Linked DNA regions of Homo sapiens: regions 1 and 3 are each linked to region 2. The links come from fine-mapping of genetic effects on gene expression. A gene starts in region 2. Each other region holds a variant in brackets. All regions are shown on one strand. Distances are from middle to middle. Region 1 overlaps SMYD4 (SET and MYND domain containing 4). Region 2 holds the start of RPA1 (replication protein A1). Region 3 overlaps RPA1 (replication protein A1).

Region 1 (4,239 bases), 39 kb after region 2:
CAAAACCAGCAGAAAAAAAAAAAATACTCAGCTGAGCCAAAACTGCCGGGGTACAGAATTGTGAACAAGTGAAATTGTCATTGTTTTAACAATCCCCCCAAAAAAACCTCATAAACAAAAATTAGATGTAAATGGACAAAATGAGGGAATATCTCTAGCAACTATACAGCTCTTAAAATCAACTTTTAAAAATATGCATAGCGGCCAGGCACAGTGGCTCACACCTATAATCCCAGCACTTTGGAAGGCTGAGGCAGGAGGATTACTTGAGCCCACGAGTTAGAGACCACCCGGGGCAACATGGCTAAACTCTGTGTCTACAAAAATACAAAAATTAGCTGAGTGTGGTGGTGCGCGCTTGTGGTCTCAGCTACCCGGGAGTCTGAGGTGGGACAGCGGCTCGGGCCCAGGAGGTCGAGGCCGCCGTGAGCTGAGATCACCCCATTGCAACAGAGTGAGACCCTGTCTAAAAAATAGCAAGATAAAAATAAAAACATGCATAATGATGAAAATCTAAAGCCGGGTTGTGGTACTGTTTGCCCAATCTTATAAATTTCCCCCCAAAAAAGCACTGAATCGTACACTTAAGTGAATTTTACGGTAGATGGATTCTATCTCAGTACAGCTGTTGAAAGCACACGTGAGCAAGCACTGTATCGAAGTAGATAGTGATAAGTAAAAACGGTCACTCTCTAACCTCTCTAGTAATTAAAACCAGATACCTTTGTTGGCCTGTCACGGCAGCAGAGTTGTTTTACTGGTTTTGTTTTTGTTTTTTGAGACAGGGCCTCTGTCTGTTGCCCAGGCTGGAGTGCAGCGGCGTGATCTCAGCTCACTGAAGCCTCGACCTCCAGGGTTCAACTGATCCTCCCTCCTCAGGCACCCAAGTAGCTGGGCTCAGGTGTGCACCACACCGGGCTAACTTTTGTATGTTTAGTAGAGACAGGGTTTCACCGTGTTAGCAAGGTGGTCTCCATCTCCTGACCTCGTGATCCGCCCACCTTGGCCTCCCAAAGTGCTGGGATTACAGGGGTGAGCCACCGTGCCCGACCTGTATTTTTAATTCTAAAATGCATTTTAGGCCAGGCGTGGTGGCTCAAGCCTGTAATCTCAGCACTTGAGGAGGCCGAGGTGGGAGGATCACGAGGTCAGGAGATCGAGACCATCCTGGCTAACGTGAAACCCCGTCTCTACTAAAAATACAAAAAATTAGCCGGGCGTGGTTGCGGGCGCCTGTAGTCCCAGCTACTCTGGAGGCTGAGGCAGGAGAATGGTGTGAACCCAGGAGGCGGAGCTTGCACTGAGCCGCGATCGCGCCCCTGCACTCACTCCAGCCTGGGCGACAGAGCGAGACCCCGTCTCAAAAAAAAAAAAAATGTATTTTAGGTTAGGATTTAAAGATAACATGTTATATCTGCCTGATGGCATTACAAGCAACTGTCATTTTCTCTGTAATGTTCAATTTTTAAATTTTTTTCTGACTACCACGTATTCCTTTTGTAATTTCAATTAGTGGTTTTTTGTTTGTTTTTGAGACAGGGTCTCACTCTGTCACTTAGGCTGGAGTGCAGTGGGGCGATCGTAGCTCACTGTAACCTCAAACTCCTGGGCTCAAGCGATCCTCCCACCTCTGCCTCCCAAAGTGCTGGGATTACAGGCGTGAGCCACTGCGCCCAGCCTCAGTTAGTTTTTTTAATAATAAAGATAATTCAAATGATAAGAGTACTTTTCTATGAACATTTTTAAGGCACTTGATACAGCTTGCAAAATTGCCCTCCAGGAAAGTTCCACTGACGCGCCCACCAGCAAGGTTCACTTTCATTGTTAAATTTCATCTCATTTTCTTTTAGTCTGCTCATATTTCTAATCTTGTTATATCCCTTTTTATTATTTCTTTGGGGTTCCAATCCCTCTCAATTTAGTGTTCTCATTGAATTTCATTAGCAGCTGTTTCATTAGTAGTACAGGCAAAGGATTAAAGTGTTAACTAGGATAGACTTTGACAAAAACCTATAAAAATGTATGTTATTATCTTTGCATAAATCCTGTTTAATCAAAGTTCCCCAGAAACCTCTCACTAGGGCTTATCTCAAGGGACAGAACTGGCCACTGATGATTTTCTAGACCGTGACACGTGTGGTTCTGTCTCAGTGGGAATGGCATATTTATGATCTATCCGGATTCCTGTCATAACAAGATTTTATTGGGGTTCTGTGTCCTGTCACTTCCCATCAATTCACTGCCCATTGCTTTCACTCTTCAGCATTGAAGGAATCTATCTTTTTTTTTTTTTTTTTTTTTTGAGACGGGCCAGCCCAGGCTGGAGTGCAGTGGCGCGATCTCGGCTCACTGCAAGCTCCACCTCCCGGGTTCACTCCGTTCTCCTGCCTCAGCCTCCCGAGTAGCTGGGACTACAGGCGCCCACCACCATGCCCGGCTAATTTTTTTGTATTTTTAGTAGAGACGGGGTTTCGCCGTGTTAGCCAGGAAGGTCTCGATCTCCTGACCTCGTGATCCACCCGCCTGGGCCTCCCAAAGTGCTGGGATTACAGGCGTGAGCCACCGCGCCC[G/A]GCATGAATCTTTTTTCTTTACTTGAATCCCAGTTTAAATGCACCAGGGATGGGCATGGCTTAGCCAGCACTTTGGGAGGCCAAGGTGGGTGGATCACGAGGTCAGAAGTTCGAGACTAGCCTGACTAACATGCTGAAACCTGTCTTCTACTAAAAATACAAAAATGAGCTGAGTGTGGTGATGGGCGCCTGTAATCCCAGCTACTCAGGAGGCTGAGGCAGGAGAATCGCTTGAACCCAGGAGGCGGAGGTTGCAGTGAGATGAGATCATGCCACTGCATTCCAGCCTAGGCGACAGAGTGAGACTACATCTGAAAAATAAATAAATAAAAAGAAATGCACTAGGGATATTAGCAAGGTACTGTTTTGGTATAGAATCACTCCCTCTTTATTTTAATACAAAATGTCACAGATTAAATTTGGTTGAGGAACTACATACATATTCTCACTTTCTATTATCTCTACTAATAGATGATTAATGCACAATACTGAGTAATTTTTAAAAATCAATACTTAATTTTTTAGAAATAATTAGAGAGCTATTCAACTCTGACATAAATACCCACACGGTTCCTGGGCCTACTTCTGTCAGAGGGTAATCTATAAATAATTCACAAAGCTGACATTACTCACTGTAGTGTGATCATTCTTTTCTGGAAAATTTTAGCAATGGTTCTAATATAGATTGCCAGTTATCAGTAGTTGGCAATGCAAGTCCACTTTTAATTATGCAGAGGCTGATTATTCAGACGACAAATTGTTCATGCCCTGGACGGCTCCTTCCTGCCACCTGCCTTTTAGCATTTTCACTGCTCATTAGCACATATACCAGAAGGTGGGCACCGGACAAGGGGGAGAAGAAGAAACAAAAATCAGCGAAGCACTTAGGAGAAGCTCTGATGAAAGATTTTAATACAATTTGTAGAATTATTAACTAGAATTGAGTCATTTGGATTCCCTGCAAAATGTATTTACTTGTTCTATTCTTGTTCTCCTTAGCAACAGATAGTAAAATTGACAACAAAATTGACAACATTATTCCTATATTCAGTGTTTTCCTTTATAAAACTTTTTTTTTTTTTTTGAGACAGAGTCTCGCTCTTTCACCCAGGCTGGAGTGCAGTGGTGCGATCTCGGCTCACTGCAACCTCCACCTCCCAGTTTCAAGCGATTCTCCTGCTTCAGCCTCCCGAGTAGCAGGGATTACTGGTGCACGCCACCACGCTCAGCTAAGTTTTTATATTTTTGGTAGAGACGAGGGTTCACCATGTTGGCCAAGCTGGTGTTGAACTCCTGACCTCAAGTGATCTGCCCGCCTTGGCCTCCCAAAGTGCTGGGATTACAGGCGTGAGCCTCTGCACCTGGCCTATAAAACATTTTCACATAATGGTTCATAATATTTTCTTTATCCATTACATTTGTACCTAGACTATTTCTTTGGTGAATTTGTTTTTTTTGTTTTGCGAGACAGTTTTGCTCTGTCACCCAGGCTGGAGTGCAGCAGTGTGATCTGGGCTCACTGCAACCTCCTCCTCCTGGATTCAAGCAATTCTCGTACCTCGCCTCCCGAGTAGCTGGGACTACAGGCGCATGCCACCATGCCCAGCTAATTTTTGTGTTTTTAGTAGAGACAGGGTTTTGCCATTTTGGCCAGGCTACTCTCGAACTT
Region 2 (4,239 bases):
TTGCTTGAACCCAGGAGGCGGAGGTTGCAGTGAGTCAAGATCGTGCCACTGCACTCCAGCCTGGGCAACAGAGCAAGACTCCATCTCAAAAAGAAAAAAAATAAATAATTCAATAAGTGAATGAACAGGAATTGGGGTCTCAAAGGGATTTAGCCTAGTAAGGGAAGTCACAAATGAGCTGAGATACGAAGATAGTGTTTGCCAGTGTGGGGAAGAGTGAAGAACCACCCAGGCAGTGGGCAGAGGGAAAAAAATGTTCAGGGCCGGGTGCGGTGGCTCACTTCTGTAATCCCAGCACTTTGGGAGGCCGAGGAGGGTGGATCACCTAAGGTTGGGAGTTCAAGACCAGCCTGGGCAACATGGTGAAACCCCCGTGTCTACTAAAAATACAAAAAATTACGCAGGTGTGGTGGTACATGCCTGTAATCCCAGCTACTCTGGAGGCAGAGGCACGAGAACTGCCTGAACCCAGAAGGCAGAGGTTGCAGTGAGCCGAGATTGCGCCACCGCACTCCAGCCTGGGGCGGTAGTGGGGGGGTATGGGGAGAAAGAGTGAGACTCTGCCTCAAAAAAAAAAAAAAAAAAAAAAAAAAGGCCGGGCACAGTGGCTCACGCCTGTAACCCCAACACTTTGGGAGGCCGAGGCGGGCGAATCACAAGGTCAGGAGATCGAGACCATCCTGGCTAACACGGTGAAACCCCGTCTCTACTAAAAAATACAAAAAATTAGCCGGGCGTGGTGGCGGGTACCTGTAGTCCCAGCTATTCGGGAGGCTGAGACAGGAGAATGGCGTGAACCCAGGAGGCAGAGCTTGCAGTGAGCCGAGATCGCGCCACTGCCCTCCAGCCTGGGCAACAGAGCAAGATTCCAGCTCAAAAAAAAAAAAAAAAGTTCAAAGGCCCCATGGAAGAAGGTAGGAGTATGGAATATACCAGAAATCTAAATTTAAAAAAAAATGTGGGGGTGACTGGAGAGGTAGGCTGAGAGTATGCTGTGGATGGGAATGGTGGCAGGAACGTATGCTGAGTGGAAGTCAGCAGCTCAGGCAAAAAAAAAGACGGTGCCAGTATGGATGGAGAGAAGCCAGTGGGCTTGATAGATCTACGCAGAGGCAAAATACACTTCACTTCGTGAGGGACTGGATGCCCAGGTAATGGACAATATAGGAGGAATGATTTCTCAATTTCTGGTTAGCACTGAACTGAATAGATAATGGTGCCATCCGTGGAGATAGGGATCAAGAGGCCCAGACTTAGAAAGATAAAGAATTTGCTTTGGGATACGTATACTGAACTTAAAACCCTCTGAAGCATGGAATAAGCAGACAGATGACGGAAGTTTGTCTTTTAGAGTAAAGGTGGCTCTGTACAAAGAAATTTGTGAGCAACTGACATATATTAATAGATGGCAATGGAATTGCCTTGGGGCCAGGCGCGGTGGTTCATGCCTGTAATTCCAGCATTTTGGGAGGCCGAGGCGGGCGGATAACTTGAGGTCTGGTGTTCGAGATCAGCCTGGCCAACATGATGAAACCCAGTCTCTAATAAAAACACAAAAAGTAGCCGAGTGTGGTGGCGCACACATGTAGTCCCAGCTACTCGGGAGGCTGAGACAGGAGACTCACTTGCACCCGGGAGACGGAGGTTGCAGTGAGCCGAGATCGCGCCTCTGCACTCCAGCCTGGGCGACAGTGAGTGTCGCCCAGGCTGGAGAAAAAAAAAGAAATTGCCTCGGGAGTCAAGAGGGCCTAGAGGGAGCCTTGATTCAACAAAAATTTACAAAGAGGGACTTACAAATAAGACGGGGATAGACCTGCCAAGCTGAGCCACTAAAAACCAAGGAAGAGGGTGTGACCTGAAGCAAGCAGGGCTTAAACGCAAACGCTGCTGAGAACTCAGGTAAGCTGAAAACGGAAAAGGGCTGGATTTAGCAACTTGGAGGCCACTGGTACCTTCAGCCAGGGTTTTCTACAGCGATCAAAGGGATGACTGGAGTGGGTTAAAGAGTTGATGAAAGGCGAGGAAAGGAAGTGGCTGAAACCAGACAAGAAGTTTGGCTGTGGGTGGGGAAAGGAGAAGAGACAGAAAGTGTCCGCAGGTGGAAGATGCAGAGAAAGGCAAGCGTTTATTTAGTTTGTTCTTACGTAGGAAAAATGTGAGCATGTTTTAAAGACGATCGAAAGAATGCTTTGAGGAGGGGGCGATGACACTAGAGGGACGCCCGGCGGGTCCCCACCGCCCCCCGCCATCTCCTCCCCTCGCGTTCATCCCCCGTCGCCCCGGGCTCCCCTCCCCCTCTCTACTCCGCGAGGCTCGGGGCCGCAGCCACCCCGGACCGCCGGCCCAGCCCCCGGCACCTCCTCACCGCAATGGCCCCCTCGCTCAGTTGGCCGACCATGGCTCCACCGCCAAGACTTCCCCGCGGACCCCGCAACAGCTCCAGCTTCCCCACCCGGGTCCCGCGCGCTGCGCAGTTATTGGCCCGAGAAGTTGCGCGCACCGCTCCCGCCCCCGACGTGCGCGCGGCTCAGGGGCGGGCCCGGGCGCTACGCAGCCGCCGCATTGGCCGAGGCGCGGCCCACGTGACCCACCCATGGTCCCAAGCGAGGCCTGGCGCGGGACGCCGGACGCGGTGCGGGGCGGAGCGGGGCGCCAAGGGGCGCGCCAGGAGCTGCGCGGGCGCTGGGAGGGAGACCAGGGCGCAGTTCCGGGCGCGTCTGAGCGGTTCTCGAGGCGTTCTCGCCTCGGTCTCTGGCGAGTGCACGGGTTGGTATCCCAGAGGAGGTTAAAGCTGTTCCTTGAGACCTCCGCTGCTAAATAGAGTCGCAGTAGTGACCCGATTCGTCCAGCAACGCGGGGCTGACTTCCCGCCTCCAAGCCCTGAGCTTGGCACCGTGGCGGTGGGGGGTGGGGGTGGGGGGTCTCCGAAAGGGAATCAGACCCGGCCCCCGTCCTTAGAGAAGAGGACAGTGTGTGGGGGCACTTTATGCCGTCAGTAACCCCACCTCCAGGTAGACGTGGTACAGGCCCCAAGGGTGTTGGAATCACAGCTGGGAAATCAGGGACGCCGTCCCGGAGGAGGTGCCATTTGAGCCGAGTCGAAGAACGTGTGGGAATTTTCCAGGTGGACTCCATAAGCCAGGGTAGGGTTGGTCCGGAAAGCATGAGTAGCCTATGCCAAAACATTGGAGAGTTGAAATAGCCTGGCAAGCCGGGGATAGCAATGAGTTGTTCAGTATGCAAGGGTGCATGCAGAGGAGTAAGTGACACCTGAGAATTAGAAAGTCAGACAAGGGTCAAGTAAGGATGGTTTTGTCCTGGGCTTCCTGGTATGCTTGGAGTAGCGTTGATGAATTTAAGGGCAGAGCACTGACTTCTGTCTCAGTGTTGGAGGCTGGATTGAAAGTGGGGAGTGGTGCCAATGGCATGGACATTAATTATAACACTCTAGGAAGAATGCCAGACGAGATGGTGAGGACTTAATCAGAACGCTGAACTATGTAAGAGAGGGAAATACCTTGTTAAATGAATAGTTGCTGGGGTGGGTGAGAAAGAAAAATCTGGGATGTGTCTCAGAGAAACTAGAGAGGGATCAGGCCGGGCGCGGTGGCTCACGCCTGTAATCCCAGCGCTTTGGGAGGCCAAGGCTGGCGGATCATCTGAGGTCAGGAGTTCGAGACCAGCCTGGCCAACATGGTGAAACCCCGTCTCTACTAAAAATACAAAAATTAGCCGGGCGTAGTTGCGCGCATCTGTAATCCCAGCTACTCGGAGGCTGAGGCAGGAGAATTGCTTGAACCTGGGAGGCGGAGGGTGCAGTGAGCCGAGATGGTGCCACTGCACTCCAGCCTGGGTGACAGAGCAAGACTCTGCCTCACAAAAAAAAAAAAAAGAGGATCTAAGAGCACAGATGGTAGCTATCTAGTCTGCTTCGTCTTTGTATAACCATCACCTGCATGGTGCCTGTGACAAAGTAGTCTTTCAGTAAATATTTCTGAATGGAAGGATGTTGAGTGAATTGCTGTGAGAAAATATAGATCCTTCCTTAGCATATAAACTAGAGGAAAAGACCACAAGAATTGATTTTATTGTTTCAGGCTTCCTTGAATGAAATCTTGATTTTCCTTTTTTTTTTTTTTCCGAGACAGAGTCTTGCTCTGTCACCCAGGCTGGAGTGCAATGGCGTGATCTCAGCTCACTGCAACCTCCGCCTCCCCAGTTCACGCAGTTCTCTTGCCT
Region 3 (4,239 bases), 65 kb before region 2:
TAACATGGGATCGTCACACGGAGGTGGGAGGAAATCGATTCCATTCTGCCTATTTGCAAACTTCTGCCCGATTGGCACTGCTCCTCTCACATCAATGCACTTCTCCTGATGCTCATGACCAGCCTTCGGCCATACTCTCTGTAGTCCACGGGCTTCACGTCCATCACAGTGGCCTTAATTCGAGACTCGTCCTTCAAAAAGGGAGAAGTAGTTTGTGAGCAGTGAAAGTGTGGTGTGGAGCAGTGAAACCCCTTTTGCTTCAGTGGTTTCAGTGAGCCCAGCGGGAGGGAACAGACGCACGGGTTCAGAGTTCAGTCATTCCAGTGAGTGACAGCCTCCTCCTGAATGTCTGGGGCTGGGCGAGTGAACAGGTCCTTTCTCCAGCACAGGCCCTTCTGATTCTTTACCCAAGCTCCCAAACACCCAGAAGCCTAGAATCCTAGTGAGATGGACTTTAGAGGGTTTCTCTAGTTTCATTTATTCTCCCTACTGCAGGGGATACAGCCCAGAGAGGACATGTGACTTGCACAAAGCCACACAGCTAGTTCTGAAAGCTAAACTTTCAAACTTTCATTTCAAGAAAAGCTGAGTGGTGAAAGGAAGAGCACCTGCAGCAGAGGGAGAGGACCGAGTCTGTCCTGTCTCAGCTCTGGGGAGGCAGCCTCTCTTCACTTCACCTTCCCTGTCCAGACACGATGGGGCTGAATGGCCCCAAAAATCCCCCCCAGCCCCACCCCACTCCCTGACATTGTTTCACGGTGACATCTGATCCCCTATCTCATTTAATGTTTATAGTAGTCGCAGAAGAACGGGCGTTAAGGTAAATACGTGAGTAAACCCTGCAATCAGCAGGGGCGTTTCTACCACTCCCCCTGCCCACTCGTACGTTTACACTCACGGCCTGAATGGTGCCTTTCCGGGCAGAACGGAGTGATACCCAGGAAGGCTGCACAGGCGAGCTCGGGGCTGTCACACTGCTGTGTGCTTGGTCGGTACTAAATCCCGTGATACTCGTAAGCATGATCAAAAGCAAAGCTCTGAAGTCAGGCTGCCTGGGTTGGACGTTAGCTCGACCACTTGCTAGCATACAACTTAGGCAAGTGACTTGTTCTCTGAATGCCCGTGTCTCTCTGTATGTAATTCCTTCAGTGGCAAAATAGGGTAACCACAGTTTCTACATATAGGGTTACTAGGCTCAAGTGAGATGTTCCACGTAAAGGATGTAGAACAGTTACCTGGCAGACCATGCTCAATACTGTTTGATTATAACTATAACTAAGCTGGGCGCGGTGGCTCATGCCTGTAATCCTGGCACTTTGGGAGGCTGAGGCGGGTGGATCATCTGAGGTCAGGAGTTCGAGACCAGCCTGGCCAACATGGTGAAAACTCCGTCTCTACTAAAAATACAAAAATTAGCCGGGCATGGTGGCGGGCGCCTGTAATCCCAGCTACTCGAGGGGCTAAGGCAGGAGAATCACTTGAACCCGGGAGGCGGAGGTTGTGGTGAGCCAAGATCGTCCCACTGCACTCCAGCCTGGGTGACAGAGACTCTGTCTCAAATAAATAAATAAATAAATAAATAAATAAATAAATAAATAAATACTATATGGTATTATGGGCAATTTCAGGAATTTTCAAGGTAGTTTTAACCACACGTGGCCTTTGTTTCATATACTGACTGACTGACTTAGAAACGGGGTTTCACTATGTTACCCAGGCTGGCCTTGAACTGCTGCCTCAGTCTCCCAAGTAGCTGGGACCACAGGCACACACCACCACGCCCGGCTCATATACTTAATATACTTTTCTACAATCTAAATTTGTCAAAGATATGACTCTACTGCATGCGTTATAATTTTTTTGTCAGAACACAGACGAAAAAATCCTAGGATTTAACTGAAAAAAAATAAAAATAAAAAAAATAAACAAACAAAAAAATCCATATTGTATTCCCCACCCCCCCGCCATTGTTTCGACAAGACACTTAAGCTCTCTCTCCTTCCTCATCTGAAAATGGGGATCATAACAGCACCTGTGTTGGGCAAAGTCAGCACCGGGGTCTGGCAGTGAGTACAGTAACTCCCTGCCAGGGAGTGTCACGACACTGCCGTAGGTGACAAACAGCACCTCCCCACCACCAACCCTGCTGCCCAGGCCCTTACTTACGTTGTAGGTCTCCACTTTGACCCTGACTCTGAATATGAAAGATCGGAAGTTGGCATTCTGGAAAACTTCTTCAAATGCCTGTTCATTCTGCAAAAACAAACATAAAACTTGACACATGGAAACCACTGGACAACTTGCAAATACTGATAAGACTTTTAAAAAGACTTCTGAAAATGCATCTCCTGGGTAGTTTCAAATTACTTAGGAATGACTCATCTACAGGTAACATTACATGAAACTGTTTTAAGTAGAATCTTATTGAAAATTAAAACACTAATCACATTCATAGAAGGTAGAATGGCAGTTGTCAGGGCCAGGGAGAAGAGGGTTTTGGAAAAGGAGCTATTGCTTAATGTGCAGAGTTTCAAATCGCCACCCATGAACAGTGTGTCTCCATTCTCCCCTTCCCTCCATCCTTGGAAAACACAAGGCTGTCGTCTGTCTCTATGAATTTGCCTATTTAAAAAAGTACTGGAAAAGGATGGTGGTGACAGGGGCA[C/T]AGTAATGTGAATGTACCTAACGCCACTAAACTGTACACGTAAAAATGGTTACAAAGGCAAATTTGGTTATGTATGCTTTACTAGACACAAAAAATTAAAAACGCTCTTAGGAAGTTTCTAAGACTTTAAGGCTGGGCACGGTGGCTCATACCTGTCATCCCAGCGCTTTGGGAAGCGGAAGCGGGTGGATCACTTGAGGTTGGGAGTTCAAGACCAGCCTGGCCAACACGGTGAAACCCCATCTCTACTAAAAACACAAAAATTAGCTGGGCATAGTGGCAGGTGCCTGTAATCCCAGGTACTAGGGAGGCTGAGGCAGAAGAATTGCTTCGACCTGAGAGGCGGAGGCTACAGTGAGCTGAGACTGCACTACTGCACTCCAGCATGGGCTATGGAGCGAGACTCTCAAAAAAAAAAAAAATTAGGAGGTCAGGTATGGTGGCGCGTGACTATAATCCCAATGTTTTGGGAGACCGAGGTGGGAGGACTGCTTGAGGCCAGGAGTTCAAGAATAGCCTGGGGAACATAGCAAAACCCCATCTCTACCAAAAAAAAAAAAAAAAAAACTTAAGCCAGGTATGGTGGCGTGTACCAGTAGTCCCAGCTACTCAGGAGACTGAGGTGGCAGGACTGTCTGAGCCCAAGAGTTTGAAGCTGCAGTGAGCCATGATCGCACACCACGGCGCTCCAACATGGGTGATGAGGCAAGACCTTGTCTCAAAAAAAAGAAAAAAAGGAAAAACACTCAGAAGAAAGTTCAATATAATTCGTGATTTCAGCCTCTGTATTTATAGCTACTGATTTGGTGTGCAAGCAGAGAAGACTGTTGAGGTGCGCAAAGGCTAGGGAAGGCCTAAAAACAATCCTTTTCCCTCTCTCACTCCTCAAATGCAATTTAAGTTTATTAAAAAAAAAAAAGTCTGGTAAACAGACAAGAATTAGAGAATATAGTTTGTATAAAGATGCATAAATAAATGTGTAATAACTATATTAACAGAGTTGATTGAGACCTTTGACAAAAAAAAAGAAAAACTAATTAATAGTTCACACCAACCTAGTGTTTTTTGCAAGTCACGCACGGCGTGAAAGCAGCTTTGCTATACAGAACTCTTTTCTGTAAAGGTTACTTGATCAAAACCCAAACCCAAACCAAATGGACTTTCAGATATGAAAATAAAACAATGGGTTAAAGCTTGAGAAAATTACACCGGCTGCCATTATGCTTCCAAGATGAGGGGCGTGGAGTGCGAACTCCAGGATCTCACGGTTCCTCGGGGAAGTTTCTATATGTCCTCATTCACCGGCAGAAAAAACAGTCAAATATAATAAGCTCATAAAAATCCTGAAAGGCTTACTCGGGCCTTAAAATCTGATACGAAAATTGAAGACCAGGTAAAAACAGACAAAAGATACTATCACACTTTAAAGTCAATTCTAGTTATTTCTGTAACAGGATTTGTTGAGACTATTTTGAGAGCTCTCATGGACAATTTAAAAAAAGAGTCAGGGCAGAGCCCAAACAGACAGAACTGGGGACAGGAAGAAAAAGAAAAACACACCAGAACAAATGGCA

Evidence for each region. PIP is the estimated chance that this variant, and not a neighbour inherited with it, causes the effect.
Region 1: its variant is the best candidate, but not a certain one, in a credible set for the expression of RPA1 in monocytes (TOPMed, PIP 0.52).
Region 3: its variant is the best candidate, but not a certain one, in a credible set for the expression of RPA1 in whole blood (INTERVAL, PIP 0.54).

The regions. Positions count from the first base shown.
Region 1 is chr17:1,789,180-1,793,418 of GRCh38, reverse strand. The region is part of intron 5 of SMYD4 (SET and MYND domain containing 4); the gene reads left to right. Among named protein-coding and RNA genes, the nearest start is that of SERPINF1, 29 kb to the right of the region's middle. The variant G/A (reference allele first, on the strand shown) is at 2,571.
Region 2 is chr17:1,828,253-1,832,491 of GRCh38, reverse strand. It overlaps RPA1 (replication protein A1), which reads right to left and starts at 2,487. Exons shown (of 17, transcript NM_002945.5): 1 at 2,366-2,487. The coding sequence starts at 2,398. SMYD4 (SET and MYND domain containing 4) reads left to right here and starts at 2,590. Exons shown (of 11, transcript NM_052928.3): 1 at 2,590-2,766. RefSeq lists an enhancer at 1,091-1,591 and a silencer at 2,219-2,738.
Region 3 is chr17:1,893,023-1,897,261 of GRCh38, reverse strand. RPA1 (replication protein A1) reads right to left here. Exons shown (of 17, transcript NM_002945.5): 16 at 2,167-2,253; 17 at 1-191. The coding sequence ends at 87. Among named protein-coding and RNA genes, the nearest start is that of RPA1, 65 kb to the right of the region's middle. The variant C/T (reference allele first, on the strand shown) is at 2,666.